3 linked regions of the Homo sapiens genome follow. The protein of the gene in region 3 interacts with the protein of the main gene of each other region in a pairwise test. Each region holds a gene or a part of one and is shown on either strand. Other genes may lie near its edges. The genes, in order: PHF7, TRAIP and MAGEF1.

The links.
Region 1: the proteins of MAGEF1 (region 3) and PHF7 interact in a two-hybrid assay, tested with the Homo sapiens proteins (one study listed by BioGRID).
Region 2: the proteins of MAGEF1 (region 3) and TRAIP interact in a two-hybrid assay, tested with the Homo sapiens proteins (one study listed by BioGRID).

The regions. Positions count from the first base shown.
Region 1 is NC_000003.12:52,411,284-52,420,924, reverse strand, and holds part of PHF7 (E3 ubiquitin-protein ligase PHF7), read right to left. Parts: exon of another isoform or gene 9,102-9,641; intron 8,115-9,101; 5' UTR 8,046-8,114; coding exon 8,005-8,045; intron 6,930-8,004; coding exon 6,877-6,929; intron 6,430-6,876; coding exon 6,338-6,429; intron 1,093-6,337; coding exon 991-1,092; intron 615-990; coding exon 490-614; intron 23-489; coding exon 1-22.
Region 2 is NC_000003.12:49,825,875-49,835,180, forward strand, and holds the end of TRAIP (E3 ubiquitin-protein ligase TRAIP), read right to left. Parts: intron 7,167-9,306; exon of another isoform or gene 7,073-7,166; intron 6,195-7,072; coding exon 6,042-6,194; intron 4,195-6,041; coding exon 4,146-4,194; intron 3,893-4,145; coding exon 3,743-3,892; intron 3,635-3,742; coding exon 3,584-3,634; intron 3,352-3,583; coding exon 3,229-3,351; 3' UTR 2,727-3,228; downstream 1-2,726. UniProt on the Homo sapiens protein: E3 ubiquitin ligase required to protect genome stability in response to replication stress.
Region 3 is NC_000003.12:184,709,864-184,721,358, forward strand, and holds MAGEF1 (melanoma-associated antigen F1), read right to left. Parts: upstream 2,202-11,495; 5' UTR 1,959-2,201; coding exon 1,035-1,958; 3' UTR 501-1,034; downstream 1-500. UniProt on the Homo sapiens protein: Enhances ubiquitin ligase activity of RING-type zinc finger-containing E3 ubiquitin ligases. Proposed to act through recruitment and/or stabilization of the E2 ubiquitin-conjugating enzyme at the E3:substrate complex.

The sequences.
Region 1 (9,641 bases), about 130 Mb from region 3:
GCGATGTTTGTCACAAAATGATCTGTGGCAGGTAAACAGACTTGGTTTCTGGTTTGTCATTGATGTAGTTTCCCAATGGCCCGCTCTAGGAGGGGCAGCCAGCCACCCAGGCTGGTGCCCAGTGAACCTCCACACATGGGGAAGAGGAGAGGCAGAGTGAAGAACTGCCACATGCCTTCTCACGGCTGCTCACCTACTGAGCAAAGTTCCCAGGACTGTCTCCATAGCCTCTCGTTCCTGAAAGCCCCACTTAGTGCTGAGCAGCTGTCTAAGAACCCCAGCTGTTTGTAATTTAAGGAGGGGTCAGGAAGCAAGAAGAACCCCCTGTGAAATCTCCAAGTCAAGACACTGTTTCTTATTACTGAATGGAGGGACAGATTCACTGGTGAATCAAAACAGGCCTGCTTGTGAGAACTGGACTCTGATTTCATTAGTGGCTGAATAATAAGTTGCAAAAAGGAAGCCAGACTTTTCCCTTCCCTCACTCACTTGTACTCTCCAAAAAATTGTGAAAGGCAACCCCTTTCTTGGCCACAAGGCAGATGGAAGTTTCTGAGGCACTGATCCTTCTGGCAGTTGATAGCAGCTCCCTTTTTCTTGCACACAAAGCAGATCTGCAAATGAGTTCCCAGACAGTGCTCAGGACCCCAAGAAATGCAAACACACACAGTGTAGCACATCTTTCTATTAAATGGAAGTTTTGTGAAATAATAGCCATTCCCTATCTTCAGTGGTCCTGAATGCTCTGGGGCACCCGGAAGCTGAGCTTCAAGCAGCACTGAGTTCTTTCCTATTTTCTCAAGATGTTTCTCCCTCTTCTCACTTAGGACACCCATACCCCAGAGGAATATGGGACTTAAGGACTAGTTGGAAAATCCAAGAGTCCTTTGACATCTAAACTAGGAAGTAGGGAAGAGAACAGAAACAGGAATGATGGGTGAGGTATGAAAAGAGGCCTACCCCAAGGTCCTCATTTCAAGAGATTCTAACCTTCCTAGAAGCCCGGGCTGCCTCCTTTTTGATGTCTTCAGGCAGAAATCCATGGAAGCCTCTGTTGGACTGGCCCCTCTGAGGCAGCTTACTAGATAAGATCTGCGGGGGCAGTAGAACCAGGCTGTTAACAATGATGATCAGTGAAACAGTGCAGTGAGGTGAGGAGAAGGACAGGGTAAGAGAGCTAAAGAATAGAGCTTGGGCCGGGTGTGGTGGCTCATGCCTGTAATCCCGGCACTTTGGGAGGCCGAGGCGGGCGGATCACGAGGTCAGGAGATGGAGACCATCCTGGCTAACACGGTGAAACCCCATCTCTACTAAAAATACAAAAAAATTAGCCGGGTGTGGTGGCACGCACCTGTAGTCCCAGCTACTCAGGAGGCTGAGGCAGGAGAATGGCGTGAACCCGAGAGGGTGGAGCTTGCAGTGAGCCGAGATCGTGCCACTGCACTCCAGCCTGGGCCACAGAACAAGACTCTGTCTCAAAAAAGAAAAAAAAAAAGAACAGAGCTTGGTGGAATATATATGCATTGACAGGGTAATTTATTTAATGAAGGCTTACATGGCACCAACCATGTGTTGAATACTCTAAGTGGTTTCAAATATTAACTCATTGAGTCCTCCCAACAGCCCTAGGAGGTAGGTACTATTATTGTCCTCATTTTATAGGAGAGATGATGCGACCTGCTCAAGGCCACAGAACTCTGGAACCTGGACTCTTACTTTTGCTCTAGGCTGCCTCTCACTTACTGAGGGCTGCTATTGTGTGCTGGGACTTTGGGGGAAACATTTCCTTTGTATTTACTCATTTTATGCTTACAATCCTTGGCCAGGCACGGTGGCTCACACCTGTAATCCTAGCACTTTGGGAAGCCGAGGAGGGCTGACCATCTGAGGTCAGGAGTTCGAGACCAGCCTGGCCAACATGGTGAAACCCTGTCTCTACTAAAAATACAAAAACTAGGGCATGGTGGTGCGCGCCTGTAATCCCAGCTACTCGGGAGGCTGAGGCAGGAGAATCGCTTGAACCCGGGAGGCGGAGGTTGAAGTGAGCCAAGATCAGGCCACTGCACTCTAGCCTGGGCGACAGAGCAAGACTCCGTCTCAAAAAAAAAAAAAAAAATTCCTGTAATGGCAGATGCTATTATGATGCTCATCTTACAGAGGAGGCCGCTGAGGTGCAGTGTGGCAAGTGACACTGCCTCCCAGGGTTATAGGACAAGGAGGAGCAGAGCTGGCTATTCACACCCAGGCCCATGGAATCCCCATTCTTACCCTTCCTGCTGCATCACCTCTTAGTACAGAGAAAATACTCTTCTCAGAGTAATACAGGAAGAAAAACAGGGTTTTAATATCTCTTGATTGTTGTTGTTCTGTATTATGGGGGAAGGAATTGAACTTTTGAAACACATATTTTAAAACTAATTATCTCAGGGCTTTGGGATGAGTGATTTGTTTTCTTCATATTTTTAAGTATCATTCATGTTTTCTGCAATAAGCATGTATTGATTTAATAAATTAGCTACTAAAAAGAAAAAACTATATCTATATGTTCTATACAGAAAGATTTCCAAAATATATATGATGGAAAAAAGCCAAGATACAAAGCACTCTGTATAATGTTTAATTTTTATGTAAAAAATGTATATGCTTGTAAATACATCAAAATTATAACTAAGCCCTGACACCTGATAGGACTTACAAGAAAGGAAAATCACAGACCAATCTTTCTCATGAGCACAGATATAAAAATCAAAACAGATGCAAACTGAATCCAGCACCATATAAAAAGGACAATACATCATGACCAAGTAGAGTTTATACCAAGAATGCAAGACTAGTTTAACATTAGAGCATTTAGTTGATGTAACAAACTACATTAACAAAATTAAAGAGAAAAATCAAGATAATCTCAATAAATACAGGAAAAGTGAGAAAATTCAACACCCATTCATGATACTCTGGGCAAACTATATATGAATAAAAGGGATCTTCAACCTGATAAAAACATCTATGAAAAAAACCTAGAGCTAACATACTTTAATAGTGAAAAACTAGATGCTGTCCCCTGATGTTGGGAACAAGACAAGGATAACAACTCACACCACTTCTATTCAATGTTAGGTTAAAGGTCCTAGCCAATACAACAAGGCAAGAAGAAATAAAAGGCAAAGATTGAGAGAAAGAAGTAGAACTGTCTTTATTCACACATGACATGGTTATGTGCATAGGGAATCCTGTAACAAGGCATTTACAACAAAATAAAAAAACAACTAATCAAACTCAATTTAACAAGATTACAGGATACAAATCAATATACAAAAATAAAATGCATTTCTATATACCAGCAATAAACTTAAAAATGAAATAAAAATACTATTTACAATAGCATAACCACAGAATATTTAGGAATACATTTAACAAAAGATGTACAAGACTTTGTCACCAAAACAACAAAACATTGCTGAGATATATTTTAAAAGACCCAAATAAGTGGAAAAATATACCATGTCCATGGATTGGAAGGTTCAATATTTTTTGTCAATTCTTCCCAAATTGACCTATAAATTCAATGCAATCCCAATCACAATCCCAGTAGACTTTTTTTTTAAAGAAAAATTGACAAGCTTAATATAAACTTTATAAAGAAAGGACCTGATAGTCAAAACAATCTTGGAAAAGATTGTAGAACTTAACAATACTGAATTTCAATATACTATAAAGCCACAATAATCAAGACAGTGGGGACTTGTGTAAGAATAGATACATAGATCAATGACATAAATAGATTATCCAGATCCACAGATATATGGTCAATTGATTTTGACAAAGGCACCAAGGCAATTCTATGGGTAGGTAAAGATTTCTTGCAACACACAAAAAGCACTGACCATAAAAGAAAAAAATGGATAAACTGGGCTCCATTACAATTACAAACTTGTTCTTTGAAAGACACCATTAAGAAAATGAAAAGGCAAGCCAAAGACTAGGAAGAAAATAGTCTCAATACATATATTTGAAAAAGAATTTGTATCTGAAATATATAAGCAATTCCTACAACTCAATAATAAAACCACTCAATTTTTTTTTTTTTTTTTTGAGACGGAGTCTTGCACTGTCGCCCAGGCTGGAGTGCAGTGGCGTGATCTCGGCTCACTGCAAGCTCCACTTCCTGGGTTCACGCCATTCTCCTGCCTCAGCCTCCCGAGTAGCTGGGACTACAGGCGCCTGCCACCATGCCCGGCTAATTTTTTTATTTTTAGTAGACACAGGGTTTCACCGTGTTAGCCAGGATGGTCTCCATCTCCTGACCTCTTGATCTGCTCGCCTCGGCCTCCCAAAGTTCTGGGATTACAGGCGTGAGCCACTGTGCCCGACCACCACTCAGTGTTTTTAAATGGGTAAAAATATTTGTACAGATACTTAACAAACGAAAATATGTGGGCCGGGCCAGGCGCGGTGGCTCACGCCTGTAATCCCAGCACTTTGGGAGGCCGAGGTGGGCAGATCACGAGGTCAAGAGATCGAGACCATCCTGGCTAACACGGTGAAACCCTGTCTCTACTAAAAATATAAAAATTAGCCATGCGTGGTGACAGGCACCTGTAGTCCCAGCTACTTGGGAGGCTGATGCAGGAGAATTGCTCCAACCCGGGAGGTGGAGGCTGCAGTGAGCCAAGATCATACCACTGCACTCCAGCCTGGGCGACAGAGCGAGACTCCATCTCAAAAAAAAAAAAAAACCAAAAAACCAAAGAAAATATGTGAATGGCCAATATGCACATGAAAAGAAGCTTTAGTCATCAGAAAAATGGAAATTAAAACGACAATGAAATACCAATACACACCCAGTAGAATGGCTAAAATTAAGAACACTGACAAAACAAAGTTCCGGCAAGAATACTGTGCAACTGGACTTCTTATAAATTGCTGGTAGGAGTGTAAGCTGGTACAACCGCTTTGGACAGTGATGTGGCAACCTCACATAAAGTTAAATATCTAATTAGCATACAACTAGTAATTCCACTTCTAGGCATCTGCACAAGAGAAGTGAAAGCACATGTTCACAAAGAGACTTGTACATGAATGCTTAAAGTAGCTTTATTCATAATAGTCCTCAAATGGAAACAATTCAGATGTTCATCAACAGGTGAACAGATAAGCAAATAGTAACTTATTCATGCAACCGAATACTACCAAGTAATAAAAAGGCACAAGCTATGAATGCATGCAACAACATGGATGAATCTCCAAAACACTGTGTTGGGAGAAAAAAGCCAGATACAGAAGATTATAAACTATATGATTTCACTTATATGAAGTAAAAGAATAGCCAAAAATAATCCATAGATCAGAACAGTGATTACGTCTAGTGGGATTGACTGGAAAAGGAGGCAGGAGGGAACTTTCTGGGGTGATGAAAATATTACCTATTTTGATTGGGGTGGTGGTTATTTGGGGACATACATTTATCAAAACTTATCAAACTGGACCCTTAAAATTAGTGAATTTTGTTCAAGACCAGCCTGGCTAACACGGTGAAACCTGTCTCTACTAAAAATACAAAATTAGCCAGGCATGGTGGTAGGTGTCTGTAATCCCAGCTACTTGGGAGGCTGAGGCAGGAGAATCACTTGAACCAGGGAGGCAGAGGTTGCAGTGAGCCGGGATCACGCCACTGCACTCTAGCCTGGGCAAGAGAGTGAGACTCCGTTCTCAAAAAAAGAAAAAAATTGGTGATTTTTACAGTATGAAAGTTATACCTAATAAAAAAATACTGGGAAAAAGCAATTGGAAGGATGTTACAACTTTGACAGCATTTGTTTCTGGGGAGAGGGAGAAGGATTGGGAACATTGTTTAGGGAAGAGACTTTTTTACTGAACTTACTTTATACTGTCAAGATTTTATACCAGACACATATATTTTTCTTTTTTTGAGGCAAGGTCTTCCTCTGTCACCCAGGCTGGAGTGTGGTGGTGTGATCACTGCTCACTGCAGCCTCCACCTCCAGGGTTCAAGCGATCCTCTTGCCTTAGCCTCCGGAGTGGCATTTGTCACTATACCCAGCTTTTTTTTTTTTTTTTTTAATTTTTTTGTAGAGACAAGGTTGCCCAGGCTGGTCTTGAACTCCTGGGTTCAAGAGATCCTCCTGCCTCGGCCTCCCAGAGTGCTGGGATTACAGGCGTGAGCCACTGCACCCAGCCTAAAAATAGATTTTAAAACAAAAAAGCTATTAAGAAAAATAAAAAAACAAGGCTGTGGATATGAGGATGAATGTAACAGAGAACAGTCAGTACACCAAAAGCCATAGGATATTCAAAGCAAAGGAGGCCTCATACTCACAAGACAGAAATAATGCACGCTGATATTGTCTTTCTGAAGAAATTCCCCTAATTTTTCGGGATCCCCAGGTTCTCGAAGGCATAGCCAGCAAACTGGAAGAGAGGACACCCAGAATTTGGCTCAAATTGACCATTAAGAATGGAAGAGAAGGGTGAGAATGTAACCATTCCTCTAAGTCAGGAAGGAGTAGAATACTAGGAAAAGGGTCATTTTGGCAAGGAGGAAGGTTGGGATGAGGTCTTATGTGGTATCAATTAGTCTGTCACATAATTCTGGTTACAATGAAAAAGTTGGCCACAACTGCTCACTTCATTTTTTTTTGGTTTTGTTTTGTTCTAAAGTGACTTTAATAACTTGTTTCTTGAACTTCAGACATGGTAATTTAAAATGGCAGTTCCTGAGTCCTCAAGATCTTAGAGAATCTAGGAAGGAAGTAGGGCTGGGAGAGAGAGAAGAAGCAAGTATACTGCCCCACACAGGTGGCCTTCTTTGCTGAGGGCTGGAGGCAGTGGGCGAACACAAGCTCCAGTCTTTCTTACCAGGCCCTGAAGACGGTTTCCTCTGGGTTACCCTCCTAGTCTTGGCAGATTTTCTATACAAGAGAAATAAGAAGCACAAGGTGTTCTTTGGGGATCTTGTTGATAACCTTTTTAACATTTCTCTTAAAATGCCATTCATGGGTCTGATGAAGGACCAACATATCTAAAGCCTAAGACATCAGCTTCTTTTCATATTTCACATATATATGTTTTTGAGACAGAGTCTTGCTCTGTTGCCCAGGCTGGAGGGCAGTGGTGCGATCTCAGCTTACTGCAACCTCTGCCTCCTGGGTTCAAGCAATTCTCCTGCCTCAGCCTCCCGAGGAGCTGGGATTACAGGCGCCTGTCACCACGCCCAGCTAATTTCTATATTTTTAGTAGAGACGGGGTTTCACCATGTTGGCCAGGCTGGTCTTGAACTCCTGACCTCAGGTGATCCACCCGCCTCGGCCTCCCAAAGTGCTGACATTACAGGCATGAGCCACTGCACCTGGCCATATTTCATATTTTTTTTAAGTGCAAAACATACTCACTGAGTTATTTGAGGGCAGGAACCGGATTGTAAGCATCTTTCTCTCCCCAGTGCCTGTACTGCCTATGTTGACTGAATGAATGCAAGAGCAAACCCTCTTTTACTTTTTTACTGCTTCTTCTGCCAACTACTCTGAATCTCAGGTGGTACCACCTTTACAAAGCATACTGAAATGAACCAAAATTGATAAAAGTATTTCCTGTTGCGAGGCACTATTCTTGGCACTTTACATGTATTGGCTCAATTAATCTACAGTAGCTCAATGAATCTACAGAACACTCTAAAAAGTACATGCCATTATTATGTACATTTTCCAGATGAGGAAACTGAGGCATAAAGAAATGTAGTGCCTTCTGTCACAGTTATTGGCAAGTGGCAGAGCTAGGATATGAATTTGGGTAGTAAGGTTCCAGAGTCAGCACTTTGCTACTAGGGACAGCACTGGTAAGACAGGTATGACAGCTCCCAGCTCCGTGTGTGCTTCCACACTGTCCAACCTCAACCCCCAAGACTACGACAAAGGGGGCAAAAAGTGCAGCCTATACCACAGGCCATTGGACAATTTCTCCCAAATTCCCTATGTCAACTACTTCTACCTCAATCTCTGGCATTCCTTCTTTTCTTTTACAGTCTTCATTCGGTGCTGTCTCTCTCTCCTCTCTTGAATTCTTCTATACTATTGTGAGGACAATACAGGCTCTTCCAGCTATAAATATAAATGGGGTTTGGTAAGCAATTTAATTCTGTATTTGGTTATCAAGTTCCCCAGGGTCAAGGCAATGGTGCACTTCACCTCCCAACCCATGTGATGGAATAAAAGGGACTGTTCTAGGTACTTGACATGTGTTAACTCACAAACACGCCATGCAGTAGGTACCATTATTATCCCCATTTTCAAGATGGGGGACTGAGGCACAGAGAGGTTTAAGTATCCTGCCCAAGGTAAGAGTTAGTAAGTGATATAGATGGGATCTGAACTCAAGTAGCCTGGCTCCAGAGGCCAACACTAACTCTCATGTTATACTGCTATCACACAGTAGCAAAAGAACTTAGAACCATTACTTGACCTAGCTAAATGGTTGTTTCTTTGTGCCTACAAAAAAATACGTGAAGTAGCACTCAGGAAAAAAAGGCTCCTTTTGCACCTAAGTATGGGTGCCTTAATTCTACCCAGTGAAAGCTAGATAAGGTAGCTTTTTCCTAAGCAAAGGAGCCTGTGAGATTTGGGCTGCCTAAAAGCAAGAACTCCCTCTAGTGAGAGACAAGAGGTAACACTGACAAACACCCCCTAGGCTCTATCACTTTTTTTTTTTTTCAGACAGGGTCTCTCATTGTTGCCCAGGCTGGAGTGCAGTGGGTGAGTGCATGAAAGTGCCACTTTCCTAGGCTCAGATGATCTTCCTGACTCAGCCTCCCAAGTAGCTGGGACCACAGGTGCCATGCCACCGCACCAGCTAATTTTTTGTAGAGACAGGGTTTTGCCATGTTGCCCAGACTGGTCTTCAACTCCTGGGCTCCAGTGATCCTCCCGCCTCAGCCTCCCAAAGTGCTGGGATTACAGGCGTGAGCCACCAGGCCTGACCTCTCCTATCAATTCTTTTCACCTAGGCTCAGGTGGCCACTGAGATATGGTCTGTACCCAACCTTTGTCTCCATCTGAGCCGAGTACAATAGCCAAAAGTGCAGAAGGTACCTTGTCTCCTATTTCCAATGTCAGCCAACTCCGGCTGTTACCTGTTTTCATTAGTAAACAAACTGTAAAACAAATGTACAGTTTCACTGGTTAACGGGGAGATCCCTGAAAGTGAACGGGAACGAAAGAAAATCCACCGCTGTGAAGCAAGGACTGTCTAGTCAGGGGAGAGGAGAAGGACAGCATTTCTTAGAAGGAGGGCTGGGTGAATCAGGTCACTCCAGAGACACTCCAGTATCCATGGCCTCCGATCACGGCTGGAGATCGGGAATATCTTCAGGGACTTTAAACTATTCTGCATGAATAAGGACGACTGAGGAAATTACTGTTCAAGAAACCAAAGCCACCCTGCCCTCCCCTTCTTTGTGCTTGTTCTGTCTCCTCCTCTAACCCAGGAGTTGCAGAAGCAATGACATCTGATGGCTTCTTCCTTAAGGAAAACACTGGACAGGCTGGAAGAGGAGAGAGAAGGGCATGTCCTGACCTTGCTATTCCCACAGGGGTCCACGTGAGCGGACTGCGGAGCAGTTCCCAGTTACT
Region 2 (9,306 bases), about 130 Mb from region 3:
GCCAGTGAGTGAGCTGACAAAGATTTTCTGGCTTAAAAAACAAACAAAAAAAGGCACGAGTCCTTTAAATCTTCTGATATGTTGCCAAGGTGGGGTTGGGTGGGGTATTAATGCAGGAATTGCATCTAAGAGGCTGAATGAAACCAAGGCAAGCATCTCAGAGTACCTCCAGGTCCGTCAAAGCGCACAACCCCAGCATTTTTGGAGGGCAAGGTTCCCGTGCCTGTTCTGGCACCAGTCAGCTGCTTTCAGAACTGGTGCTGCTATCCCCACAGCCGGATGGGGCTGAGGAATGGGAGAAGTAGCTGCTTGATTCACACTACTCTCTTCATCAAGCAACCCCCTTGTTAAATTTCCGGGTTCTGAAACAGTTGATTACAATCACTGCTCTTTTCAGCTCAATGGTTGCTTTGATTCAGGAACCAACCCCTAGAGCTTCCAATTCCACCATTATGCATGCCTTCGCTCCACACTCTTTTGATTACTATAGCTTTGTAGTTAAGTTTTTAAATTGGGAACAACTTTTATCTTTTCTTTAAAACAATTTTAAAAAATGTTTTGGCTATTCAGAGCCTCTTGCAATTCCATATAAATTTGAGAATCAGTTTTCAAATTTCTGCAAAAAAAAAAAAAGGCCATTGGAATTTTGATAGGGATTGTATTGAATTGTAGAATGCTTTGGGGGTTATTGCCATCTTTAAAGTCTTCCAATCCATGAACACAAGATATCCATGTATTCAGGTCACAAGTTCATTTTTTGGTAATCATCACACCTATCTATTTCCAAAACTTTTGCATCACCCTAGACAGAAACTCTGTGACCATCAAGCAATAATTCCCCTGCCCCCTCCCTCTATCCCATGCTAACTTCTATTCTGTCTCTGTGAACTTGCCTGTTCTAGACACCTCATGTACGTGGAATCATACAATAGTTGTCTTTTTGTGTCTGGCTTATTTCACCTAGCTGCCATAAGTTCTTAACCTATACGCAACACAGATCCCCACTTTATTTTTATTTTTGGGAGTCTTGCTCTGTCGCCCAGGCTGGAGTGCAGTGGAATGATCTCGGCTCACTGCAACCTTTGCCTCCTAGGGTCATGTGACCTTCCCATCTCAGCCTCCCAAGTAGCTGGGACTACAGGTGCACACCACCATGCCCAGCTAATTTTTGAATTTTTGGAGAGATGGGGTTTCACCACGTTGGCCAGGCTGGTCTTGAACTCCTGGGCTCAAGCAATCTACCTGCCTTGGCCTCCCAAAGTGCTGGGATTATGGGTGTGAGCCACCATGCCTGGCCCAGATCCCCACTTTACAGATAAAGAAGCTGAGCACAGGGGCCAGGCACGGTGGCTCATGCCTGTAATCCCACCACTTTGGGAGGCCAAGGTGGGTGGATCACCTGAGGTCAGGAGTTCGAGATCAGCCTGGCCAACATGGTGAAACCCCATCTCTACTACAAATACAAAAATTAGCTGGGCACGGTGGCACGTGCCTGTAGTCCCAGCTACTCAGGAGACTGAGGCAGGAGAATCACTTGAACCCAGGAAGTGGAGGTTGCAGTGAGCTGAGATCATGCCACTGCACTCCAGCCTGGGTAACAGACTGAGACTATGTCTCAAAAAAAAAAAAAAGAAGCTGAGCACAGAGAGGCCAGGTAATTTACCTAAGATCACTCAGCTGGTAAGGATGGTGCTAGCAGCCAGCCCCTACACTCTTAACCTGATGCTTCGCTTTGCATCACTAAACTTCCTTGGCTCAAGTCAGCTGCAGAGGGGCCAAAACTCATAACCAAGAATGGCACCTCCTTGCCACAAAGCCCCATACTCCTCCAGATATGCTAGAGATCAGCTGGGCAACCTCCACTGCAGCACTCACTCACTCCCTGTGCCTCTTACTCCCCGTGCCAGGCCCATGCTGGGTCCTGGAAAAACAGGTGAACTCCTACCTAATAGTGGGAGAGGGAAATTTAGGGGACTTCACCCAGGCTGGGGGTCAAGAAGGGAAGCACTTTAGAAGAAAGTGCCGTTGGCTGCGCGTGGTGGCTCACACCTATAATTCCAGCACTTTGGGAGGCCAAGGCAGGAGGATCGCTTGAGCTCAGGAGTTTGAGACCAGCCTGGGCAACATAGCAGGACCTTGTCTCTACAAAAAATAAAAATAAAAAAATTAGCCAGGCGTGGTGGCATGTACCTGCAGTCCCAGCTACTCAGGAGGCTGAGGTGGGAGGATCACCTGAGCCTGGGAGGTTGAGGCTGCAGTGAACTGTGATTGTGCCACTGCACTCCAGCCTGGGAGACAGAGGGAGACCCTGTTGCAAAAAGAAAAAAAAAAAAAAGAAAGAAAGAAAAAGAAAGAAAAGAAAGAAAGTGCCTTTGCAGCCAAAAGTCAAAAGCTAGCAATTTGGCTGGTAGCGTTTAAACGTGGGTAGGAACGGAAGGTAGTGGTCGCTGGTTATTTGCTGTGAGTACACTGTATAGATAGATTTCCATTTACTCGTTCACTTTCCTACTTATGGCCTTTAGGCTGTGCCCAGGTTAGAGACTGTGAGAAAAGCTGCAGTGATCTCATTCTTTCTAGAGTCTTCCTGTGCCCCATGAGAAGGCATATGCCTAGGGAAGGAACTGCTGGATCTGAGGCTTGGCGATGTTCCTGCTTTAGAAAGTCATGCCAAACAGTTTTCTAAAGTGTTGGTGCAAATTTACACTCTCAGAACCAGGAAGAAGAGATTGTTTTTTTTTTTTAATTTTATTTTACATGAAAATCTTCCATCCTCTCCATACATCCCATGCTATCCTCCATTCCCCACCCTGCTTGGCCCAGGCTATGCCTAGAAGCAAGTCAAAGGCAGGTAGAAGCTTGGGCTGAGGCTGCCTGAGATGCCTCAAGCACTCTGGTCCACAGAGACAGTCAACAAGTGACCGTGGTCTCCAGGCCCAGAAAGAGTCTGACCACATCTGATCATGGCTATAAACAGGAGCCTGGCAACAGGAGCAGGACCTGCTGACAGGATCAGTGGGCTGGTCATGTCAGCTCCCAGTCGTAGGAGTGGGGCAGGGTGAGGGCAGGAAGAGCAGTCTCTGGGTGCCACACTCACCCTCACCTGTTTGTCTGCCCTTACACCTCAGGCTGGTCCCGAAAGTGGGGCTCTGTCCACAAAACCCCTGCCTGGACAGTCCTTGACCTACAAGTTGCAGGCATGTGTCTGGCCATTGGTCAGACTCACTGTTCTCACGACCACAGGAAGGTGTCCAGCTTGGCCTGGAAGAGAGAAGGCACTGTCTTCACCCTCACCCTCTGCTTAACCTTGGTCTTGGGCTTAACAGGCAATGGGCGGATCATGACTGTGTCAGTCTGGAGGAGCTGTCAAGGAAGAGGCATGGAGAAAGGACTGCAATGCAGGGCGAGAAAGGACTGCAATGCAGGGCAAGAAAGGCTCAGAGCCGGGGGTGGGCGGCGCTGATACACAGAATGAGGCCCAGCACTGCACACCTGAGGCTGTTGGCACTGGCAGGCTGGGGGTATAGGTGAGGCATAGTATGGGCTCCACAGTTCAGCTCAGCTCAACATCACAGGAAAAGGATACAGGCTGGATGAATTTTGTCCGGCCACCGAGCCCATCGAAGCCTGTCCTTACCTAGGGTGGAAGGAAGAGATGAGTGGGCCAGGCTAATGGGCTGGGGGGCTGGCCACCCATTTCTACCCAAGAGGGCTGGCTCCTGCCACTGTGGGAAGCCACACTCACCACATCTTTGCTGCAAGAGGACTCTGACCTGGGCCTCTTGGGCTGTTTCTGGCCTAGGATGGCATTCCGGACAAAAATAGGGAAGGCACCAACCAGTTCCTCATCTGGCTCTCCTGCACAGCTCTGGCCACCCAGTGAGAGCTGGGACTCCTGCAGGGAAGACCCCAGGGCCAGACTTGATGAGCTGGATGTCAGCAAAGGAGGGAGGGTAGTGGTGGTGGAACAAGATCAGGATCTCTGATGCCTCACTAGGAGGCAGGAGGGATAATGAGTAGAATCCCAAGGGTGGCTCCGAAGTACCTCAGTCCTGGACCAGGAGTGACAAGGCTCTGGCAAGACCGTGCCCTCCCAAAAGTCCAGTCCTGCCAAAGGTTAGACTGTGCTTCTTCTAGAAAGCTCTTACCTTCCTGGGGCCTTTGCATATCTTCTTGGGGACATCCTGAATTGGGGAGCTACAAGAATGAGAGAGAAGGCAAGGGGTAGGTAAGCAAGACATGGGGGCAGGTGAACCAGGCTCAGCACACGCCCCTTGGGGAGTTACCATGTGGCACTGCTGCTGCCATGCCTGCATTCTGGGCAAGGCACCTCAGTGATCCCACCCCAAGTGCAGGTCTGTTAACAGCTGGACAGCCACAGCCAGTAGGGTGGCAGAGACAGGGATGACTGGGGATGACTGGACCATGTCCCAATCCTGTGGCTTCCACTCAAGGCCAAATTCCAACGCTCCTCAAGTCCTCGGGCACCTCACCATGTCCCAGGCTCTATATGGGGCTGAAGAGCCCAATCAACTCACCACCCACGGGAGGAAAGCCAGTCATGCCCTGATACGAGCAAAAGAAATTTAATGAGCTCAGGCCTAGTCCTGTCTTCCCAGAGAGGGGACACTACCTCCACGAGAGCCTCAGTAAGTTAGCCTTTCAGTAAAGTAGCCCACAAAATCCTCTCAGAACACAGGGCCAAGCCATCTCCCTAGAGAGTGTGTCTAAGAAGGGCCTGGGGCAGAATAGCGCATGGCCCCAGGCCCTGGTCTCCCAATCCCAGCCCCAGAGCCAGAAACTGTATTTCCATCCAATTCCTGGGGAACCCAGCAGCTGGATACCCTCTCCTGGCATTTTCCCTGGTGGGTGAGAAGATGGTGATCTAAGGCTGGCCCTGTGGCTTCTCAAGCCATAAGGACAAGAGTGGGATCAGGGCCTGATGACTGACTCCTCTGCTCCTGCCCTAACGGCCTGTGGTAAGGCTACATGACAACCAAGGCTCCAGGAAGGACGAGCTGAGTTAGGGACTCAGAACTTCACTACCTCCTTCACTACCTCCACAGGCCATGAAGGTGGTGGAAATGTCTCTGAAAGGCCTGGCAGCCTGAAGACCCCAGGTGTCCACCTTCAACCTTTACAGCGGAAGAAGGGCAATGGGAGGAAGCCAGAGTACACAGCAGACACTGACAGGATCCCTGAGGACTACAGCCCACGGGTCCTAGGTTTGTTTCTCATTGCTACCAGGCCTCGCCCTCTACAACAGGGGTGCCCATGCCCCCTGAGGTTTGGGAGGTAGGACAGCCCAGCTGGCTTGCCCTCTTGCTCCCTTCCACCTCCACTGTCTAGCATCTCAGTTTCTTTCTCTTTCTCTTCTTTCTCTCTGTACAAAGTCTTTGAAAAAGAGGAAACCTGCCCAGCCCTTGACCAGCCTCACCTGAACAGTACCTGTATGAATGAGTATAGTCCTTGTCTCCACAGTGAATTACACTTGGCAAAGCTGGCCAAGGAGACAGCCTCCCTTTTTCTGGTCCCACCGTACCCCAGAGCAGGTTCCACCTGCCCCACTGGAATTCCAGACAGCTTCTCATGCTTGCCCCTGTGGGTCACCCCCTTGGGTGGTAAGGCCTTGGGCTCTGTGGTTTGAGATGATCCTCCCTCAGGCATGAGCCTCAGAGGCAAACATAGAAGAGGAAGTTCAGAGTCCCTCGCTCAGGACTCTGGTGGGCAGGCCTTCAAGGTATTGGGAGCACCCTCTCCAGCCCAGACCCACCCCTTCTGGCATCACTGCATTCTCTCTAACTTGCATTCCAATACGTTTGCCTTGAAAGGTGATGGTGAGGAATAATGAGAAAAGAGAAGGGGTTTGCACAGATTGAGTGCTCAGGTGAGGGAACAAGAGGTAGCTGGAACCAAAGCCATGGCCAAGCCTAGGCAACCCTCACTGCCCCATCAGCCACTCAGAGCTAACAGCACAGGGCCTGCAGAGCTGTCTTAGCTATCCCCCTACCAGCCCATGGACAGTGCCAGCGACTATCACTCACTGTGACTTCTCTAGGCAAAGTTTTTCGTAGTAACCATGCTGGGAGCTGGAGGGCCGGGCTGGGGGAGTATCCACATCAAAGGTAGCATTGAGATCAATATCATCACGGAAGGATGGCCGGCGGAGCTTCAGATTCACCTCCACAGGGGCTGGGCTGAAGGCAGAGATGACCTGGTTACTTGGGGCCACAGTGGTAACCCAGGACAACAGCTCCTGAAGCATCAGAGATAACTCAGCTCCAGGGACCTGGAGCCCACTCCTGACTCAAGGCCACCCCTCAAGAGAGCCCTACTCTCGGCCAGGCACAGTGGCTCACGCCTGTAATCCCAGCACTTTGGGAGGCCAAGGCGGGTGGATCAAGCGGTCAAGAGATCAAGACCACCCGGGCTAACATGGTGAAACCCCATCCTACTAAAAATACAAAAATTAGCTGGGTGTGGTGGCTTGTGTCTGTAGTCCCAGCTACTCGGGAGGCTGAGGCAGGAGAATTGCTTGAACTCGGGAGGCAGAGCTTGCGGTGAGCCGAGATCGCGCCACTGCACTCCAGCCTGGGCGACAGAGCAAGACTCCGTCTCAGGAAAAAAAAAAAAAAAAGTTTAAATTTAATTTAATTTAAAAAGCACACAAAACTCCATGTATAGTGCAATTACATGATTTGGCACCCCCCCACCACTCCCACATGCAGAAAAAGGAGAAGGAAATATTCCACATGTCAACCATAAGTACCTCTATGATAACTCCCTATTTTCCAAATTCTCAATGAGTGTGTTTTTACTTTTATAACACGGGGGGGGGGGGGGGGTGGGGGGTGGGGAGTGAAGTTTTATTCTATTAAAACTACAGCCGACAGGATTCTTCCAGCCCACCCAGACCTGGCAGGGCTCCCCACCTCCTGTCATACAAGGAGAACCCTGGGGAATGGCAAGGGTAGCTCCAAAGATGCCTTCTCTCTTTCCTTCCTCAGGAACTTTTCAGAGCTGCACCACAATCCCACTTCCACTGGGGTGTACACATCAGAGGGAGGAAGCCTACCTGCATTGATTTGGGTGGCTAAGCAATCCAGGCAGCCTGGACTATTTCTTCCTTTCCCTGTCCAGGACCCTAGAAGCTCTACCTCTGTCCCCGCCTGCAAGTTAAAATGAAGACTGCACAAACCCACCTCAAACCAACTCTAGGCTGGCTGCTTTGCTTCCTCCTCTGGGAACCACAGCAGCCAGGACCACTCATGCCAACTTTTTTGCAGTATCCATATTCTGCCACCATTTACCAACCCCAGCAAGTTGAGGCTCAGGTTAGGAAAGGTAAACTCAAGAGGAAGGCAGGATCTCGCTGGGTCCTGTAAATTTTACCCTCCAGGTGGCTCAAGGCAGGACTTTCTACTCCCAGCCATCCCCTAAGGCGTTGCCTAGTGGTGCCCAAGCTCAAGGCAAGCCAGGCTTATTCACTTGCACCTCCTGGTCATCCACAACACTAAACTCAAGACTCAGGAGGTTCTCACGGTGCCTCCCTCACTCCCCATATCCACATCTGGATCATATGGACACATTTCTTCCTCTCTTAGACTGTTTCTTTTTTTTTTTTTTGAGACGGAATCTTGCTCTGTCACCCAGGCTGGAGTGCAGTGGTGCGATCTCGGCTCACTGCAAGCTCCGCCTTCCGGGTTCAAGCCATTCTCCTGCCTCAGCCTCCTGAGTAGCTGGGGCTACAGGCGCCCGCCACCACGCCCAGCTAATTTTTTGTATTTTTAGTAGAGATGGGGTTACACCGTGTTAGCCAGGATGGTCTCGCTCTCCTGACCTCGTGATCTGCCCACCTCGGCCTCCCAAAGTGCTGGTATTACAGGCATGAGCCACCGCGCCCGGCCTTGTCTTAGACTGTTTCTATATTCTTCTTCCTTCATGAGCTTGAAGCCTATTTCCCTTTCTGCCAGGGGTCCACTTTCTTTCCTTCCCACTTTCTGTTTGTCCTACAAGGAGAAAGAACCTAGGGCTTAGTAGTCCTTCCCTCACTGGTTGAGGCTGGCTTGAGGCCCTCCTGAGTGACACTATCACCCTTGGGACACCCACCCATGGTCAAGTTACAGGGCTTCATGCCAGAGGCCTCAGGGAGCCAGGCAAGACACTCAAAGCTCCCCTTTCCAGAACAGAGCTAAGGCCTTGAGCAGCCCATTGCCTGCGTGGCATGGGATTAGTCAACATCTCCTCCATGAACTCATGGCTCCTGGCGGCCTTACCCTACCCTAAGGAAAGGTCTCCCTGGCTGTCTCTAGCCTGGAGTTCAGGGGCCCTTGGGGCCCATGAGAGAGATCTTCCTAACATTGACTCTGTAGTTGGGGGTGGTGGCTACATGCTGATGCCTCCCTAAAATGACAGGTATGAAGGGTAATCCTACTGCAACAAGTAGAAGGGGCAACCACCATCAGCCCCCAGAGATTTCCAAAAAATTCTGGGAGACAAAGCATGGCCAGGGGACAAGAGACTGACACAGCAGCCAGAACCCACAAGGAGGGGGTCCATGAAGGAAAGGGAGGGCCTTGCAAAAGCATTAAACAGGCCTGAAAACTGGAACACTGATGAAATTGTGAGCTTGGCTCCACCCCATCCTAATCTGCATTGGTAGAACACTAGGCAGTTAGGCTGCTGCCCTGGGCCAATAAATAGAAGAGCTTTTCTCAAAGACACTAAACAAACTATGTACAATGACCTAGGGCAGCCAATATTATTGGACCCAACAGTAAAGCCTTCTGCATCCTGGGTTCAGGTAAGACTCAACATGATGCCAGCAGTCTGCACATCCCCCCCAAACCCTACCCACATAGGTTGGCCTCCAAAGTAGCCAAGGACCACCAGGTATGGGAGGGGAGCCCAGGAAAAAGTCCATGGTGCACAAATACTGACTCTGAGACAAACAGAAATATGAGACCATAAAACAAGAACATGATGCTTTGCAAAACAGACATACTCAAAGAGCAAGAAAGAATGCTTGCAAATTTAAAACATGAATACTGCCAGGCACAGTAGCTCACGCCTGTAATACCAACAATTTGGGAGGCTGAGGTGGGAGGATGGCTTGAGGCCAGGAGTTCAATACTGACCTGGGCAACATATTAAGACTCTATCTCTACAAAAAATAAAATTAAATAAATTAACTGGGCATTGTGGCACATGCCTGTAATCTCAGCTACTTGGAAGGCTGAGGTGGGAGGATCCCTTGAACCCAGGGGGTGGAGGTTGCAGTGAGCCGAGATCGTGCCACTGCACTCCAGC
Region 3 (11,495 bases):
GTCTGCTCACATTACTGAGGAGTAGCTGTGATCTGAAATCATTATTTTTATTTCTTATTTTTTTCTGAGACGGGGTCTTGCTCTGTCTCCCAAGCTGGAGTGCAGTGGTATGATCTCGGCTCACTGCAACCTCCGTCTCCTAGATTCAAGAGATTCTTGTGCCTTGGCCTCCCAAGTAGCTGGGATTACAGGTGTGTGCCACCACGCCTGGTTAATTTTTGTAATTTTAGTAGAAACAGGGTTTCACCATGTTGGCCAGGCTGGTCTTGAACTCCTGACTCCGGTGATCAGTCCGCCTCGGCCTCCCAAAGTGCTGGGATTACAGCAAACCTCACTCAATCATCCCAGCTGGGTTAAGTATCCCTTTGTAGACTTCAACTCATTGCACTGCTAATTTCTTGTTTATTTACTTACTCTTCAATTCTGAAAAAAAGTAGGACCTTTATCTTGTTTAGTATTCTATCCCCAAGTGCCCACACAGTGCATCACAGAAAACAAGATGCTCCACAAATGTTTAATTTATTAAGTGTGCCAGGGTATACTGCTAACTCATTGCATTTTAATTTTTCTCTAGATACTCAAATAGCTAAGCAAATGAAGGTACATGCCAGTCTTTCTTCTTTTATACACAACAGACAAAAGTGTTGGGGGGCTAGACACCAACCAGCTATTTTTTTCCCCTGGAACCAGATCATCATACTGCTGAGTTCCTTCAAACCATCAAAGTACAGCCTTCCTTCCAATGTTGCATAATCTGTTCAAAATCACAGTATAAATACAAAGTTCTTCCATCCATTTTACAAAACCAGCAAAACTCTACAATAAAATCCTACAGGAAAAAGTAGACCAATCTCATTTACAAACAGCATTTTAACAGTAATTATTAAATGTTACAAAACATAAGATACAAAATCTAAATCCTTAAAGTCACACGATTTCTACAGAAATAAGACCCTCGCCCCACCCATATTACTTATGACTCAGGACAGTAGTTCGTCCTCACGGGGACCCACTGGCCAACTTTTCACCAACCCTCACCAGAGGTGGATGCCGGCCCTAGCACTGGCCCTGGCCCTCATACTGGCTTCAGCTCTGGCCTTGGCTCTGGCCCTGTCGGCCTCGTCTGCTAGGGCCTCACGGTACTGCACTGGCCAGTGCTGCGGTTCCTTCTTATGCAGTTTGGCCACGAACCCCAGGACTTCCATCTTGCTGATTTCCAGGTTGCTTCGGGGACCCCAAGAGAATTCATATTCTGGTGGATTGGTGTGAGGCACCCGCCTGTAACTGAGATATCGCTGCTGCACAAAATCTTCCATAATAAGCCTCTTCGGATACCCAAAGAGGAAATGATACTTTGAGGGTTGCACCCCCAACCGACGCAGCATCTCCCAGACCTGGGCCTCCCTGGCGCTATTACCTCTCATATAGATAAGGCCCAGGATCATCATTAACAGACCCAATCTGGGGCCATCTCCTCCCAGATCCTCCTCCTCCTCCTCCTCCAGAGGTTTTAGTTTGTTGATCAGGATGTAAGTGTGGTGCTTGCGGTCAAACTGTTTCAGCTCAAAACCAAAGACATACCGCAGATGCTCTGCGGCCCTTGCGATGATGTCCGGGAACAGAATCTTCAAGTCTCCAATAACGTATTTCACCATCTCCGAGCGTGTGATGGGACTCTTCTTCTTGTCTTTCACCAGGAGGAACTGCACCAACTCCGCCACCGTCCGATTCAGCCGGCGGTAGGCCCTGCGCCTTGCCAAGGCTTTGGCCGCCAAGGCCCTCGCGCCTTTCCGGGTGAGGGCGGGCTCCGCAGCCCCCTCCTCCCTCCCGGCGCCAAGCTCCTCCTTGGGGCGCTCCTGCGAGGCGGTCGGGGCCCGGGTCTCACCATCATGGCCGCCATCCTTCTCCCCCTCGGCCTGCGGGACCGGGAGCCCCCTGCTCTCTGGTGTCTGCAACATGTTTTCGGGCAGGCAGGTGCAGAGCGCGTACACGGGCCGAGGGGTGTGGGAGCCGCCGCGCAAGCCCCGGGGGAGGGGTTGGACAGCGGCAGTGACGGCGGGAGTACAAGGAGCAATGGCAGCGGGAGCTTTGTGGCTGCTGGGCCGCACCGCACGGGAGTCAAACCTGCGGCCGCAACGCCGCCAGCAGCCGGAACCTGCGGCGCGCAGCCTCAGTCCGCGCCCGCGCGAGGGGCCACTTCCGGCCACCTCAGCCAGGACGGCGACCCTAGTGCCGCGCGCAGCCCCTCCTTTTCCGGTCCCTTCTGGGTTGGGGGTGTGCCCAGGCTGCTATAAGTGGAAATGCCCTGGAGGGTGGGGACGGGGGTGCGCCCTGTGACGGATTTTAGGCTTGAAAAGTCGGGGGCGGGGGAATGTAACCAGGACTCTCCCATCCAAGGCATGCAGACTGGGGAATGTTTCGGTGTACAAGAGATGAAATAGGGATGGAGTGCCCCCCACGTTCTTTCTGCAAGTGCCTATTTGTGAGTGTGTGTATCTGGGATTTTCAGTGCTTTACCGGGGCTCTTGTGCAGAGTGCACGGTGAAGGCTGCGAGGTAAGACTGTGCGAACCAATTAGTAAAGGATGCTAGGGAGACTGAAATTTATTCTGGACGTAAAGAGAAAATACTGCAGCGGGATTTAAGCAAGTGAGTGTCCAGACCAGATCTGTGTCTTCGGTTCTGGCGGTATTGTGGAAGATAGATTGGAGTTCGGCCGGCTAAAAGCTAGAATCCAGTTTGGAGGATTATTATAGTGCAAACTAGGAACTGGGACCCGGCCTATTTACTGGGTTGTATCCTCGGTGCCTAGAGCAGTGCCTGACACGGAGAGGAACTCAATAAATATTCAATGGATCATTATGATGAGGGAGTAAGGACAGCAGATTCCATGGGGATAAGAGGAAAATACTGAGAAGTACAGCAGGAATAGGGACTGGTTGGAAGAAAGGGGAAGTTTGTTCTTTTTTTTTTTTTTTTTTGCGCAAGTCAAATTTGACTACTCCCATGTATTTCTTTTCTTTTTCTCTTTTTACACACTCTGAGCTTTCTTCTGCTTCTTGCTCCTTCCTTCCTTCTTTCCTTCCCTCCTTCCTTCCTTCCTCCCTCCCTTCCCTCCTTCCCTTCCTGCCTTCCTTCCTTCCTTCTTTCCTTCCTTCCTTCCTTCCTTCTTTCCTTCCTTCCTTCCTTCCTTCTTCCCTCCCTCCCTCCCTTCCTTCCCTGTCAGAAATGCCCTCTCTATCACCTCCATTTCTCCAAATCCTGTCCACTATTCAGGGCCCAGTTTAAACATCACCTTCCCAAGCCTTCCTTAGTCACCACGCATAGAAGTTATTTACTGTCATCTCTGAATCACCTTAGCAATTGTTAACATCCACATATATAGGCTTTATTAGGTGCCAGGCTCCGTTCTAATCACTTTTCAAATATTAATTCATCAGATTCTCACTAATGTAGGTACTAATACCATCATCCCCATTTTATAGATGATTGTATCTTTTCTGTGACACAGTTTGCTACTTACTAGCTATGTAATCTTGGGCAAGTTACCTAAACTTCTGCCCTTCTGTTACCTTATCAGTAAAATGAGTATAATAGTAGTAACAGCATTGTGGAGATTATGTGAAGTAATGCACATAAGCATTTAACACAGTGCTTGGCACATATTGATATTCAATACATGTTAGCTGTTAATTAATGCATATTTTTATATGCAATATACAATATTAGAATTGCAAGATGAACTGTCCTGGAATGCCTAGCACTCTGTGGAGATGCGGAGGAGGTGTCCTGGGACATAGCACTGAACCGGGTCAGTACTCACCCATTCTGTGACCTTGTACAGGATGCTCAAACACCCTGGGCCACTTTTTTCTGATACTGTAGCCCTGCTAGGTAAGTGGTATTAGCCCCATTTTCCAGGTGAGGTTACACACAAGGAGGTTAAGTAACTTGCCCAACATCACACAGCTGGGATGTGAACCCATATAGTATGACTCCAGAGACTGTGCTCTTAACCACTACATTCATAGATGTTAATTATTATTATTATCATTTACTATATTTTGTATTATAATTTGTTGTGCTTATCTTATTACCCTCCCCAAACCAAACATCCTAAAAGCTAGGGCTATGTTTTTAACTCTTTTGAAGAGCTTCTCTTAGTCAATACTCGATATATAATTGCCAATGAATAAATGACAGAAGGCTTTACTTTTTTCCCTAGGAAATAACAGTTACTTATTTTAAGTAAATATCTGATAGACTTTTCTAAATCTAAATATGAAATCTTCCTTTTAAAAACTTTTGAAAATTTATACCCACTTGTATCATATGACTTACAAACCTGGAAGTATGTGAATGAAGCAGGAGAGGATGTTTATTATAGCCTAGCTTGAGGCTATTATTAGTTTTCATTGTGCCAAACATTCTATGTACAATATAATTTTGTCCTCACAAATCCCTATTAAGAAGGTATTATTATCCACATTTACAAATGGGAAAACAGTCACAGAGAGGTTAAATCACCTGCCCTGAACCACCCATCTGTTAAGTGCTAGACAAGAAATGAAAACCCAGATCTGTAAACTCTGAAGCAAGACTGCCTGGTTATCTGTTTTTCCTGAAGGTAGAGAGAGCCACCCATACCTAAAAGGACAGTGCTAGAGATAAAATAGTCCACTTACATATTTTCCTCACTACAAGGATTGCCAGGGAGATATGCAGGAGATACATGCACGGAAAGGAGCATGCAGAAGATATATTAAATGAAAAGAATTTTGAGGGACAAATCTGTGGTAATAGGGCTGGATTTTAAGAACTGAATAAATGACGATACTACTCATAAGAAGGAACAAACTACTGACACAATGTGAATGAGTCTGGCAGATATGTTGAGTGACAGATGAAAGATACAAAAGATTATACGTATAATATGATTCCATTTATCTGATGTTCGAGGCAGGATAAGCTAATCTATGGTGATAGAAATTAGGACAGTGGAGGCCTGGGGTGGTGTTGACTGGAAAGGGGTATCCAGGAACTTTCAGTGGTGATGGCAACGTTCTGTGTCTTGATTTGGATGTAGGTATACATTTGTCAAAACTTGTGAAACTGTACGCTTAATAGCTATGCATTTCTTTTCTTTTCTTTTCTTTTCTTTGCGACAGGGTCTCACTCTGTTACCCAGGCTGGAGTGGTGCAATGGCACAATCTCAGCTCACTGCAACCCCTGCCACTGCAACCCTTGCCTCCAGGTTCAAGTGCTTCTCTTGCCTCAGCCTTCCAAGTAGCTGGGATTACAGGCACCTGCCACCACACCTGGCTGATTTTTGTATTTTTAACAGAGACGGGGTTTCACCATGTTGGCCAAGCTGGTCTCAAACTCCTGACCTCAAGTGATCTGCCTGCCTCAGCCTCCCAAAATGCTGGGATTACAGGTGTAAGCCACCATGCCCAGCCAGGTATGCATTTCATAGTGTATGAATCATACCTCAAAATTTATAAAAATAAAAAAGGATTTTAAAAAATGAACAGCCCTTTAGGTATGGGAGGAGGCGAGGAGTAAGAAAGGTGAATGGACTCTGCATTACCACTTGCCGATCGCTAGATGTTACCATGTTACAGTGGAAGGAATGCAAACAATAATTTTTCCCATTTTTTTTTTTGTTATGTCCACCATGTAACCGGACACACAGAATTTTTTTTTTTTTTTTTTTTTTTTTTTGAGACGAAGTCTCACTCTGTCGCCCAGGCTGGAGTGCAGTGGCGCATCTCGGCTCACTGCAAGCTCCGTCTCCCACGTTCACGCCATTCTCCTGCCTCAGCCTCCCGAGTAGCTGGGACTACAGGCGTCTGCCACCATGCAGCTAATTTTTTGTATTTTTTTTTTTAGTAGAGATGGGGTTTCACCGTGTTAGCCAGGATGGTCACGATCTCCTGACCTCGTGATCCGCCTGCCTCGGCCTCCCAAAGTGCTGGGATTACCGGCATGAGCCACCATTTCCGGCAACAGGCAGACTTTTAACACATTCCTTACCTAAACTTTTAAAAGGGACAAAAGATATATGCCTTTGGTTTGGGAGATGACGAAACATATGCTTTAATGACTATTGGGTTGGAATCTTCTTGAGAGAGGATCCTTCTTAGCCTAGACTAGAGTCTTCAAAAGCCCACAGTGCTTCGTAAAGTTTCATACGTGGAAGAGAGAAGGATGTTCCACTGGAAAAGCAGAATTGCAGCTGAGCTGTCCTGAAATGCCCAGCACTCTGTGGAGACGCGGAGGAGGTTTCCTGGGACAAAGTGCTGAACCAGGTCAGTACTCGCCCATTCTGTGACCTTGCACAGGGTGCTGAACCTCTCTGAGCCACCTTTTCCTCATCTTTAGGCCCCAACAACCCTTGCTTTGCCCATCCTTACAGAGTTATTTTGAAGTTCAATCAAGATTATACATGTAAATATGCGTTTAAAGTGCTCCACCATTAAGAAATAAATATAAAATGTTACAGACCCTTTTCTAAAAGAGATATGGTGGAAAAATCCCAGTAATGAGGGTGACTGGCCTCTTAGACAGACATTTCGGAATAGCTTACACATTCCTCATTGAAAAAACTGTCTGGCCAAAAAAGATTAAATAAAGAAATGTCAAGTACTGACACTCCATTTGAGGCCAGTGAATACTTTGGTGCAGAGCCAGGGTTATCTTGTTGGATTCCTTCTAAACTTGGCAATAGAGTCCTCCAAACTCTTGAATGCCTTCTTCACACAGGTGCTCAGTAACATGTCACCCCAGATCTGATGGTCTCCAGGCTGCGTGGGTGCTTGTGTCTTCCCTATTTCTCCTGACAGTCTTGACAGCCGTGCAGCTGATCTGGCTCCAAACAGGGATCAGAGGAAGAGCTCTGTCCCTATCCCTAGGCCGGGACAAATTGAAGCTGGTTTTGTCAGAGCAGAATGGGCAGAGTGTGAGGCTTTGGGTCCCGTCTATGGGGCTGGGATTGAGGCAGGATGGCCAGGCGAATGATTCGATCTGACTTGGGTAATGAAAATTGTTTGTTACTTTTTGAAGAGTAATTGTGTAAGCAACAGTACTTCTGTGTTTGGCTGCCAGTGACTCACCAGTGTCTGTAATATAACACCAAACCCAGAGGAGGAGCAGACCCTGGCCAGCGGGGGAGGGGGAATGGCAGGGGGCAGAGGGCCCCCTACTCATTCATCCCCTTCTCCCTCTTCCACTGTCCCACCCCCTCTCTAAACCTCGAAGGAGAGTTGGCGAGAAGGCATTTGCCACCTGGACACAATGAGGCCCAGTGCAAGGGGCGGGCGAGAGCCTGGCCAGGAGCCAGGGCCCTGGTCTGAATGGCTGTTGCCAAGGGGCTGCCAACAGCCCATCTCAATCCCCAAGAGGCTGGGCAAGGGCGGGGGGCCCAACCCCCACCTCGAAGGCCCACCTCACGCCATTCGCAGGCCGTGATCAGAATGTGCAGGACGCAGGGGCTTTGAGCGGCTGAACAGAGCCGTTTCCCCTCTGCTGGCCGCCAGTTTGCTTGGATTACAGCGGCCTCTCTGGAGCCCCTTTGTGGGCTGCTTGTTATTCCGCACGCACAGAGCACTGTGCATTCATCTTTATTAGTTCTAATTGCTTCCCCATTCTAATGGGATCTTGATATTCCCATACAATTGAAAGGAAATGTATTCATTAAAATAATTCTTCTCCTAACTGCCGCTTCAAGCTGCTCCTCTAAGTGACATTGTCTCTCTAACCACAGCCTGCTGAGGCCTCTTATTAAGACTCTAGTCAAAAGCCAACTTTGGGCAGCAAACTTTCCTTGCAGGAGTTTCCAGACACTGAAGAGAGGGTGCTTTTTAATCGGCTCACACACAGAAGTTGGAGGCCAGCTGGTGTAATTGGGGGTGCTGCTCCGGGTGGATGGAGGGAGAAGGGCTCGCCTCCAGCTCTGCCTCCTTTAACAATGACCCCTTTCTGCACACCAACCAGCTCATTTGGAGAGGGCTTCTCCCTCTGTCATGTGTGTGAAACTTCTTGTTTATGCCACAAGCAGTTACTAGGTGTGTTTTAAGCACAAGGCGCTGAGTAAGGTGCTATGGGAAGTGTGGAGACAGGGCTGCAGATTCAAGGCGTTTATGATCTTGGTGGGTGGCTCCCAACTCCAAGTCCCTAGAGTTAGGTATGAGAGGAAAGGCTGGCAGCGCTCTCAATGTTCAGAAAGCTTACTAGGATCAAGAACTGAGAAAAGCAGGCTATTATTTCATAAATGTGTTTGATTTAATAACCAAAATCTTTCAAGCTGTGGGACCATGGGGGTAATACAAGAAGCTTTTTGGGACATTGGGAACCACTGATCTAGTTAGGGGAAATAAGCTGTTGTAAAAAGAACGACTACGTAAATGTCTGCTCTTGACATCAGTGGTATCAATAAAGTGTTGTGGGAATTTGGAGGGGTGGAAGGGAGTATACGCTGGGCACTGCAAAATTGCTTGAACCTTATTTAATCCCTAGAACAGCCCTTTGAGGGAAGCATAACTATTCCCCATTTTACAAATGAAATCTGAGAGAAGTTAGGTAATGTTTCCACTGTCAATAGTTGGAGACAGGATGAACACCAGCCTTCTGATTCCAAAACACAGGCTATTTTCACGGCATCTCTCACATCGTATCTGTCTTGGGCGATCAGAGGTTTCCTGTGAGAGGTGGTGTTTGATCCCCCTTGAGGCCTTTAGGAATAGTGGGTTGTCAACAGGCAGGGAGTGTGGTCCCAAAGGAAGCAAAAACACACACAGGGACTGGGAAGAAGCTGGCATATCAGGAAATGACAAGAGTCCAGGTGGCCCAGACACTGGAGTGTGTGCAGAGGTGGAGGAGGAGAAAAGCAGAAAGGTTTGTGAAGGCCAAATTTTAAAGAGCCTTGCTTGTCAGGAGTTTGGACTTTATCCTGTAGATAATTCTCCAAGGAGGATACTTGAAGCCTCCAGATAAATACAGTATTTCTTTCGGGAACATCAGTTTTCCTTGAGGTGAATAATTTTAAACATCTTCATATTAAAAGAAATTCAGATATATCATGGAGTAGAATGCAAAATTCTCATGAATTTTTAAGAGAAAACAGGAGACTTCAAAGAGAGTTTGGGTGTGCTGGCAGGAGCTTCAGGCTCTGCAGCACCCTGGGGGAGCATAAGGCATTTCTTTTGTCTACTGTTGGTGCGCTTCAGTGGTAAAGATTGAGAAGCGCTGATTTTACACAAACTGTTTTGATCCCAGGAATAAAATCGATAGCTGTATTTCAAGATGGGAGGCAGGGGCCTGGAAGATAGTTTGGGCAGGGCGGGGATTGAGGGCAAGAGGCCAGTTAGGAGGCTGTTGCAATAAACTCTCCAGAGACATAAAGGGCCTGGGGGCTGCCTGGGTCTCAGAGCTCACCTCTTTGCCCTGGCACTTTTGGAGGGGGCTGCCTGAGAGACACCCACCTTGTAGCTGCTCCTTTATTTTATTTTATTATGTTTGGAGATGGAGTTTCACTCTTGTCGCCCAGACTGGAGTGCAATGGCACCATCTCAGCTCACTGCAACCTCCACCTCCTGGGTTCAAGTGATTCTCCTGCCTCAGCCTCCCAAGTAGCTGGGACTACAGGCGTGTGCCACCATGCCCAACTAATTTTTGTATTTTTAGTAGAGACGAGGTTTCGCCATATTGGTCAGGCTGGTCTTAAACTCGTGACCTCAGGTGATCTGCCTATCTCAGCCTCCCAAAGTGCTGGGATTAGAAGCATGAGCCACCAAGCCCGGCAGCTCCTTTCTTTTAACAAACTCGGCAGTAACACTAAGATGGCCAAGGAGGTTGTAGCAGAAGCAGTGAAAGGAGGTTCTGGGCCAGGAACAAGTTTTGCAGATAACCTTCGTGCCCTGGCCTCTTCATCAACGATGCTGCCCTCCAACCACCTTCTGGCCCAACAGGTCTGTTAACTTACCTGCTGGAAGGTGAGTGGCTGGACCAGCGATTCTTGAGGACCACTGCCTTGTTGCTGCATCCAGCCTTCACACACTGGTGGGCAGTTTTGTTTTACCTAGTGTGGTGGCCAACACCTTATGGTCAAGAGAGACTCAAGGGAAGGAGGAAGGGGGGATAAGCATCCCAGCTGAGGACCAAGGTCGTGCTTGACTTCTGCTTGTCATCAGTAGATGGAGATAGCCCACCTCAATTAGTCAAAATCCCTAACTCATATGGGTCTTTCTGGAGGAGCCAGTTCTTATGTAGTTCGTAATTTGTTTCTTGAATCATCTTTGCTTTTAAAGCATTACGAAATAACTTAGTGCTTTTTTTTCCTAATTTTTAGAAGATACTATTTATTGTAGAAAACTGAGAAAATCTTGACCATCAAAAAGAAAAAAACAAAAACAGAAAAACACCTATAATTCCACCATGCAGGGGTAACTACAGTAAACAAATACATTGGTGGGTGTCCTCCTCCAATTTTTCTAAGCACATACAATTTTATTTTTTAATGGAGTCATTTTGTGTACACTGCATGTATACTGTGGCTTTGTATATGAATAACATATATTTCTTCACATACCTTGAAACTTTCACTCTAATTAATATTTTCCTATAAGGTAATTATTTGTGACTGAAGTTGCCCATGGATGCCATGTCACCTTTAATGCCTATTGTTATAGATTTAGTTTGTTTTCAGTTTTTCATTCTTAAATACAATGTGAGGAACTTATTTGTGGCAAAATTTTTCACACAGCAATATTATAAATATTTTCTCTTATACAAGTAATCATTTTATTGCTGAAAAATGTAAGTTAAGGCAAGAAAAAAATTAAACACCTGAAATGTTACCATTCAGAAATCATAGCTATATACCTTTCAGTGCCTACCCTCACAGATTTAATTGTGTGCATGTGTTTATATCTATACATAAATAGATACATTGAATAAAGTCTGTAAGTCTGGTATAAATATATTTTTATTAAAACAATACTATTTTCTAGCCTGCTTTTTCTTAATAGATAATGACCATCCTTGTCATTAAATAGTGTTCAATATTATCATTTTACTGCTTTCTAATAATACATTGTATAAGTGTCTAACACTCATCCTGTTGTTTATTTGAGTTTTTCCTGGACCGTTCTTCTTTTTCTTATTTTTTGCAGGAGTTCTTTAAATAGTAAAGATATGAAATTTTTTGTCATGTTGCAAATATCTTTCCTGGATTATTCATTTTTCCTTGGGACTTGTTTGAGATAAGTTTTTTCCTCTTTATTTTCATAATTATAAAAATAAAACATAATTTGTATTAACATTAGAAAATACAGATAAAAGGAAAAATAATTAAAATGAAATAACCCTAAATCCCACCAACTAAAGATAACCACTACTAATATTTTAGACTGTATCTTTCTAGTCTTTCCTATTTCCCAATATAGATGAGTAGGACCATATAAGTATGATATATTTTTTAAAATTGGGATTATTCT